Homo sapiens: one gene and its partner. The gene in region 1 interacts genetically with each later gene. Each region holds a gene or a part of one and is shown on either strand. Other genes may lie near its edges.

Region 1 (3,823 bases):
GATTTTATTGTTTGTGGAAATCAAAGACAAATATAACCAATTATGACAATTATACTTCTTTGATAATCTTATTCCTTATTTTCCCTAGCAATGGCCTTTGTGTAATCCTGTATTTCCTGCTAGAATTTAAAGCTGAGAGACAAGTGCTACTCACACACACAAGTCAGTCCATCACCCTGGTATCCTTCTTTACATTTGCACTTGTAGGACCCACGTATGTTATAACATCGAGCAAAGCTGCTGCACTGATACTGACCAAGTGAGCATTCGTCTATGTCTGCATCAGAAAGTAGGAAAAGAAGAGACTTATTTAGGAGATAAATATGATGACATAAAAAATATATACAGTTTCAAAAATGATTTTTTTTGGCAATGTGATGATCTACATAATATTGGCAGATAAACAGAAGAAATAAACTACATGTAGACTGAGAACTACCAGTGGTTAAACTGGATGTCTGTTGGTTTAACTTAACGCCAGTACTCTCCCCTGCCCCTGACATTCCAGCCATCACCACAATTACGAGACCTTTCAGTGCTCTAGGAAGAAACAACACAAAGCAATGGTTGGGTTTCATTACCATGACATTGATATTTGCCTCCAATATACATGAGATCGAAGCCTTTATGACACTTGCAGATGTAGCTCCCAAAAGTGTTGACACATTGCCTAAATCTAGGGCAGGAGGCTCTTCCTGTAGCACATTCATCAACATCTAGAAACATAAGTCAATAGCATTTTAGGAAGAGCAAGGGTATGTTAAGACAGAGTGGGTTTCAAAATAAATAACTGACTACAAATGGTTGCCTAGCATATAGTGGCTCATCATAAACGGTATCTAGCTGGTTGTCCCTACAGGCAACATAAATTCCACATATCCAAATTTCAACCCAGCCTTCTAAGCCAAGTTATTATTTTCTTGCACTCTATATATTAGCACATACTGCACCTGTATCTACCAAGTTGCTTAAACTAGAAACATGAGTCATTCTTGAATTAGAAACAACCCTCTTTCCTTTAACTCCCATATCATCAAGTCCAGTTAATTCTACCTCTAAAAAAAAGTATTTGAATCTGTCTACTTTTCTCTTAATCCACCACCACTACCCTATTTGAAGCCACCATCTCTTGGGTTAGACTGTTACAAAAGCCTCAAAACAGTTCCTTTTGCTGTTACTTACCCCCTCCAAAGCATATCCAACCCAACTGTCAAAATGATTCCATTAAAACATACAATCAAATCATTACTGTGCTCAAAATCTTTTAACTATTTCTACTTGCACTTTGAATTAAATCCACATTCCTCCCCTGTGTCCTTGAAGGCCCTGCAACAAATCACCCTCACCTACTTCACCCATTATATCTCCAGCCACCACCCCTCATACTCACACCCTGTACTTGAGCTACATGGACCTTCTTCCTTGAAAAACCTCACACAGGCCAACCTCTCTCTCACCGCAGTGCCCTGCAATGTCTTCAGCTGCTTGGCTGTTTCTTCACATGGCTAATGATACAGGTCTTACCTTAAGGCTAATAGACACATTCTGTTTTTCTCTCAGTACCTCATGTTAACACTTGGCATTGTCTGTAATTTTATGGGGTATTTGTTTCTTTTCTGTCTCCCCCATTAGCATGTCAGCTTTGTGGGGATCAAAATCTTGTGTGCTTAGGCCACTGCTATATATCCTAGCACTCAGCACAGTGTCTGGAGTATAGAAATTACTCAGTAAATAACTCTAATCACCAAACACTTCCATTCATTCAAGGCTTATTACATGCTAGGTATTGTGCTAAGCTCTTTGCATCCATGATCTCATTCAATCTTCCTACCAGTTCTATGTGGTATTATTTCCATTTTAAAGATAAGAAGACCCAAGCTCAAAGCAACAAAGTCTCTTGCCTAAGGTTACATATCTAGTACATGGAAGAGCCAGGTTTAAAACCAAAGTCCAGACTCTCAATCCTACACTGCCTTCCTAATTTACCAGAAAAAAATCTGAGGCCTGAAGAACAACACATACAATCTAGCTATTCAGCTTCATCACTCATTGCTCACCCTTGCCGCTTACATTCTAGGAATACTGAGCTCTTCTCGTTTCCCTAAACATTGTGCTCCTCTGAACTGCAGTGTCTTTGCACATAGGGTTCCCTCTGCCTGAGGCCTCCTCCTATTTCTCATTTTTTAAAAAACAACGCTCCCATTATCCATTCACAGAGATGTCCTCTTCTGAGACATCTGATATCTTCTGAACGATAGCTAATTATCTGATGTAAGTAATTGCCTTTTTTTTCCTTATTCCCATCACCTTTCACTTTCTCCCTTTATCCTACAGAGGCTGCTGACAGAGATGCTTGATTTTACAACTCACCTACACAGGTCCTCCCATCAGGAGCCAGCTGCAGGCCAGGGGATGGGCACTGGCACCGTATTTGTCCTTTAACAACATCACAGCCATACTGACAGTTTGCCATGGAGCAGGTCAGGGCACCTGGAAAGAGAGTGACTGGCTGACTCAGACAGGTAGAAAACAAAATCTGTAATGGAAATAGCTATGTTTTTTCACTTGTCCTGAAATCAGTGACACTGAACAACAATGAAGACAAAGAGGCCTTAACTATCAAACATCTAAAGAAAATAAAAGGGGGAAGGAAAGAAAGCATTAAAAGACAAATATAAAACTATCATATATAGATTATCTGGAAATTTTTCCAGTGGCCAAGGAAAGTGAAGAATTGAGGTATTTTTCCAGATTACTCAAGCTAAACGCTATTCTTAACTAATCATCCAAGTAACTGTCTCAAATGCCCATGAAATTTCTCTAGGGGAACAGCAGATTTCCCATTGAGTTGCACAATGTTAAACATGTATTCACCTAATTCCAAAAAGTTCCATGCTATACTTATGCAATGTTAAATAAAATTAGCTAACTTTATTTTATGCAACTCAGTTAAATGATAATTCAGTAAAAATAAAAATCAAGTCATTAATTGTCAGATATCATATGAATACCACAATTCAGGAGTCAGCCTATAGAGAATTTTAGGGCATAGTCCATTTTTTACATCCAAATGATGGTGAAAACATGCATTTCTTCCTTATAAACATGAATCCTACTTTTCTGGTATCATATTCATTTATTTTTTATTTGAAATTGTTTTTTAGAAGTCTTAGACTATTATTAGAGTCTAAAATTCTATAAAAGCCTAAAGGCTTTTATAATGAAATATAAAAATGAAGAAAATATTTATGAATGATTTAAAATTACAAAACAGACCTGATGGATTCTGTCTGAGCAGTCCCTAAATAGTCAGTAGTGTTCTTTTTTTTTTTTTTTTAGCCTGGAATCATTCTTCTATGCCCAGATAGAAGACATGGGTAAACATGTTTAAAAAAAAAATTAGAAAACATACTTAGTTTTGTAATTCTTATTCTAAACACCATTTCCTAATCAATTTAATATTGGCACCCGTGATAGAAGAGTATTATACATCGAAAATGGTGCCTCTTATTTTGATTTTCAATTCCTCAGGCAAAAGTATAAACACACGCACACATCTTGTTTAGGAGAACCCCGGAGGCCATTTTCACAAAAGCAAGCTCTCAGAGCACAACAGAAACAAGCCCAAAGCACTTATAAAACAGTTAAGATTCTTGACATACTTGAGCAGGAACCATCCGGCATGAGCATATATCCGTTGAGACAGTAGCACTTGTAGCTGCCGTAAGTGTTCATGCACCTGTGCTTACAGGGCCGGGGCTTCAGGCCACACTCATTTAGATCTGAAAACAATGTGGGTTGAAGCAGAAAAATTACAAAACCT
Region 2 (4,126 bases), on another chromosome or scaffold:
GGTAATCTAAGGGAGTTTATGGTGACCTGGTACTAGGCAAAGGATTAAAACTATAAAGGAAGGCACAAATGATGCTATTAGGTCACACTGAGGTGCCAGGCATTGATCTACATGATGTATATGTTTATGTTCTATATTTCTATATTTCTAAGCTACGTATATATTTAATTCATCTAATTATTCCAGCAACTCTATAAAAGAGATGCCATTAGTGTCCCATTTTTCAGAAAAGGAAACTGAGGCTAGAGAAGTTGAGTTACTTGCCCCAATGACACAGCTAAGGCCAGGTGAAAAGAGAATTCCAACCTGGGCTGACCGGTTCCAGATCCCTTGTCCCTCACCACTACATGCAACAGGAGGTGGAGGAGAAAGAAGAGGCAGAATTTGGTGGCACCTGTCGTGTAAGCGGAGGTGGGCGGGGCGGGGGCACAAACCAAGTTCATAAGCCTACAGGATGGAGGGTGCTAAGCTTCAAAGGACAAAGAGGGCTGGTCGCCATGGCTCACACCTGTAATCCCAGCACTTTAGGAGGCTGAGGCAAGAGGACTGTTTGAGGCCAAGAATTTGTGACCAGCCTGCACAGCATAGCAAGACACTATCTCTACAAAAAATTTTAAAAATTAGCTGGGCGTGGTGGCCTGTGCTTGTAGTCCCAGCCACTCAGGAGGCTGAGGTGGGAGGATCGCTTGAGGCCAGGAGTTTCAGGCTGCAGTGAGCTGTGATCTCACCACTCCACTCCAGCCTGGGAGACAGGGTGAGACCCTGTCACTAAAACATTAAATAAACAAACAAATAAATAAAAATAAAATGAAGGGGACTGTGGGGACAAGAGTAACTTTATTGAAAATACTAATCCTCCATGTTACTTCTGACTGGCCCTGAGTCTGGGAAGGCCGCCAAAGTGTCTAGGTGATGTATTACTCTTTATGGTAGAACACCTATTCATTATAAACTTCCCCCAATACAACCCCTGTTGTTGCAGAAATCTTAGGCTGTGACAACCATAGCTGCCTACACATTCCTTGTATCTTGGGGTAAAAGCACACGTGCTCTGGAAGGAATGTGTAGGTGGCTATGGGTGCACAATTTCAGGGGGTTCGTGAACTCCAGTTAAGACTTGCCCTAATTATACCATGTAAATAATTCAATAATGGGCAATTCTGTAGTAGAAATTTTATTCCCACCCATAAAATATATCACTAAATAGCTGAAAAATTTACATATTATTTTAAAACATAGACTTAAAAAATCATATTAGCTTCTCCTTAGCAAAATGCTTTTGTTTTATGTATTTACAAGAATATACTGTACTTCAGGTACACAATTCACTCAAGCCAGCCTGAGAAGGCCTTGGATGCAGATCAATGCTCCAATAAAGTTCATTATCAGCTCCTCCTGCCTTGTGACAGGATGATTTGATTTTACAAAAGTCCCTTTGAAAACAAGAGTAAACGCAGACAGCTTCTAGAGAAAAGTCTGGTGAAGCAGCAGTTGATAATAGATTTTCTTTTAGTGATGAAATTAATCTTGTTTTGGTAATCTACAGCCTGTTAGGGATAGGTGGAGGGATGAAGTCCTTAAAACTAAATTGTTCCTCTACGAATCTTCGACCTGAGCCTGCGGAGAGAGTAGCCCCAAATCCATCTCTCTGCTGAAAGGTCGCCTGTTTTGGTAGGTGTGAGGACATTCCGAAACACGGCCATCCACATTCTGATACATCTGAATGTGGGAAAGAGACAGAACACTGATTACCATCTGATGTAGATGCACATGTTATGCGCCCATATTACAAATTATTTAAATAAAAACAGTTGTTCTATATAGACAATTACTTTTTTGTTTGTTTGTTGTTTGTTTGTTTATTTTTTGAGACAGAGTCTCGCTCTGTTGCCCAGACTGGAGTGCAGTGGTACAACCATAGTTCACCGTGGCCTTGATGTTCTGGGTTTGAGCAATCCTCCCACCTTAACCTCCTGAGTAGCTGGGACCACAAGCAGGCTCCACCACACCCTGCTAATTTTTTTATTTTTTGTAAAGACAAAGTCTCACTATGTTGTCCAGGGTGGTCTCAAACTCCTGGGCTCAAGTGATCCCACACCACCCCGGCCTCCCAAAGTGCTGCGATTACAGGTGTGAGCCACTACGCCCGGCCTAGACATCACTTTTAAAATGTTTAAACTGATATATAATAGATGTACATATTTTCAGGAAACGTGTAGACAAGTACTTTTATTATGCATAGGTCTCAGAGGATATTCTATATAACTAAAAAAGCAATTTTGGTCCTTTTATTAATGGAGAAATCAAATCATAGTCAAATATTTTATTTCATTATTGAGTCTACTCTCAGATATAAAATGTCACCCTAGAAATCCTAAAACCATGCAGAAAAATCATAAAAGAGAAAGGCCACAAAAGGAAATCTGTTCATTATGGAGTTAATACAAGGGACTGATTCTTGAGTTTTCCCTTGGAGTTTCACGACTTTTAAATATTTTTTTCTGAAATGAAGAGATTTACTTTCCTTTCCCAAATATGAAGTTAACATGCATTCATATAGATAATTTGAGAAATACAGAAAGAGACGTAGAAGGCCGGGCGCAGTGGCTCATGCCTGTAATCCCAGCACTTTGGGATGCCGAGGCGGGCGGATCACCTGGGGTTGGGAGTTCAGGACCAGCCTAGCCAACGTGGAGAAACCCTGTCTCTACTAAAAATACAAAACTAGCCGGGCATGGCGGCGCGCGCCTGCAGTCCCAGCTACTTGGGAGGCTAAGGCAGGAGAATTGCTTGAACCTGGGAGGTGGAGGCTGCAGTGAGCCTAGATTGTGCCACTGCACTCCAGCCTGGGTGACAGAGCAAGACTCCATCTCAAAAAAAAGAAAAAAGGCTACAAGTCATGACAAGTACCCGCCATTATAGACAGCTTGCTATGCACACACAATTTTGTGTCTGTGGGCTCAGGCTATATATTCTATTTTGGAACCTTATTTTGAATTATCAATATATTGTTATTATACTGCTCATATGTTGCCTGTGTCACATATTTACATTATTCACTAAGGATGGCCACATATTTTTTTTTCACGGCAGCCTAGAGTTCCATAGTACTGATGCATCATAATTAACCTTTTGACCAACTGGTTATACGAAACAAACTGAAAAGTGCACACTCAATCTAGTCTGACGTTGGGATAAGCAGAAGTGGAATTGCTGGATCAAAAAGGATGCACACTTGAACTGTGATACACAAGGCCAGGCTGCCCTGCAGAAAGGTTGTATTTATTTCTACTCCTATCAACGGTGCCTGGAAACTATATTTTCCAGAGCCTTCTGAACAATGGGTATGTCAGCCTCCCACATCTCTTCTCTTTTGCTGAGCAAGAAGTTCTATCTCCTTAACTATATATGTTTCACTATCTGCAAAGTTGGGCCTTTTTCCTATACTTTATGTCCATTTGTTTTCATTTTGAATAGCCTGCCTATTTCCTTTGCCTTTTATGTATATAAAAGGCTATACAGGCTGGGTGTACTGGCTCAACTCTGTAATCCTAGCACTTTGGGAGGCCGGGGCGGGAGGATTGCTTGAGGCCAAGAGTTCAAGACCAAACTAACCAACATAGCAAGATCCTGTCTCTAAAAGAAATAAGTTTTTAAAAGGTGATACATTTTTATTATTATTTGTTTATAAGAACTTTATGATTTAGGAATCATGCATTCTATTTAAATTTTATAGATTTGTTCCGTTCCCACAGCCCTTGTTACTGTCTACTTCTTTTTCTTTGTTTTTGACAGTTTTAATGTGAACTGTCCAGACTGCCTCCTACACTTCACTTTTCTTTCTAGAAAATTGTGTGTGTGTGTGTGTGTGTGTGTGTGTGTGTGTATCCTTTGACCCAAAATATATCCATTGTGAACCAGGTGTTGCACAATGACAGCTTTGCTTGTACCCTGAAGGATGAACAGTAACTACTCATGCGTGCCTTTTGTGAAGTAGACATAGCAGTTAGTTAGCATTTGTTGAACCTGTTGAATCCAAATGTACATCTCTACCACTGAATTTCTAACCACCTCATGAAGTTTGTGTAGCACAAATACCAATAACACTTCCAATCTTCCACCTGAA

Evidence for each region.
Region 2: changes in NPNT (region 1) and FLT3 together harm fitness less than expected from each alone (positive genetic interaction), as found in Homo sapiens cells (one study listed by BioGRID).

Annotation. Positions count from the first base shown.
Region 1 is NC_000004.12:105,936,968-105,940,790, reverse strand, and holds part of NPNT (nephronectin isoform B precursor), read right to left. Parts: intron 3,783-3,823; coding exon 3,663-3,782; intron 2,491-3,662; coding exon 2,371-2,490; intron 717-2,370; coding exon 582-716; intron 278-581; coding exon 155-277; intron 1-154. UniProt on the Homo sapiens protein: Functional ligand of integrin alpha-8/beta-1 in kidney development. Regulates the expression of GDNF with integrin alpha-8/beta-1 which is essential for kidney development.
Region 2 is NC_000013.11:28,002,456-28,006,581, forward strand, and holds the end of FLT3 (receptor-type tyrosine-protein kinase FLT3 precursor), read right to left. Parts: intron 1,720-4,126; coding exon 1,597-1,719; 3' UTR 819-1,596; downstream 1-818. UniProt on the Homo sapiens protein: Tyrosine-protein kinase that acts as a cell-surface receptor for the cytokine FLT3LG and regulates differentiation, proliferation and survival of hematopoietic progenitor cells and of dendritic cells.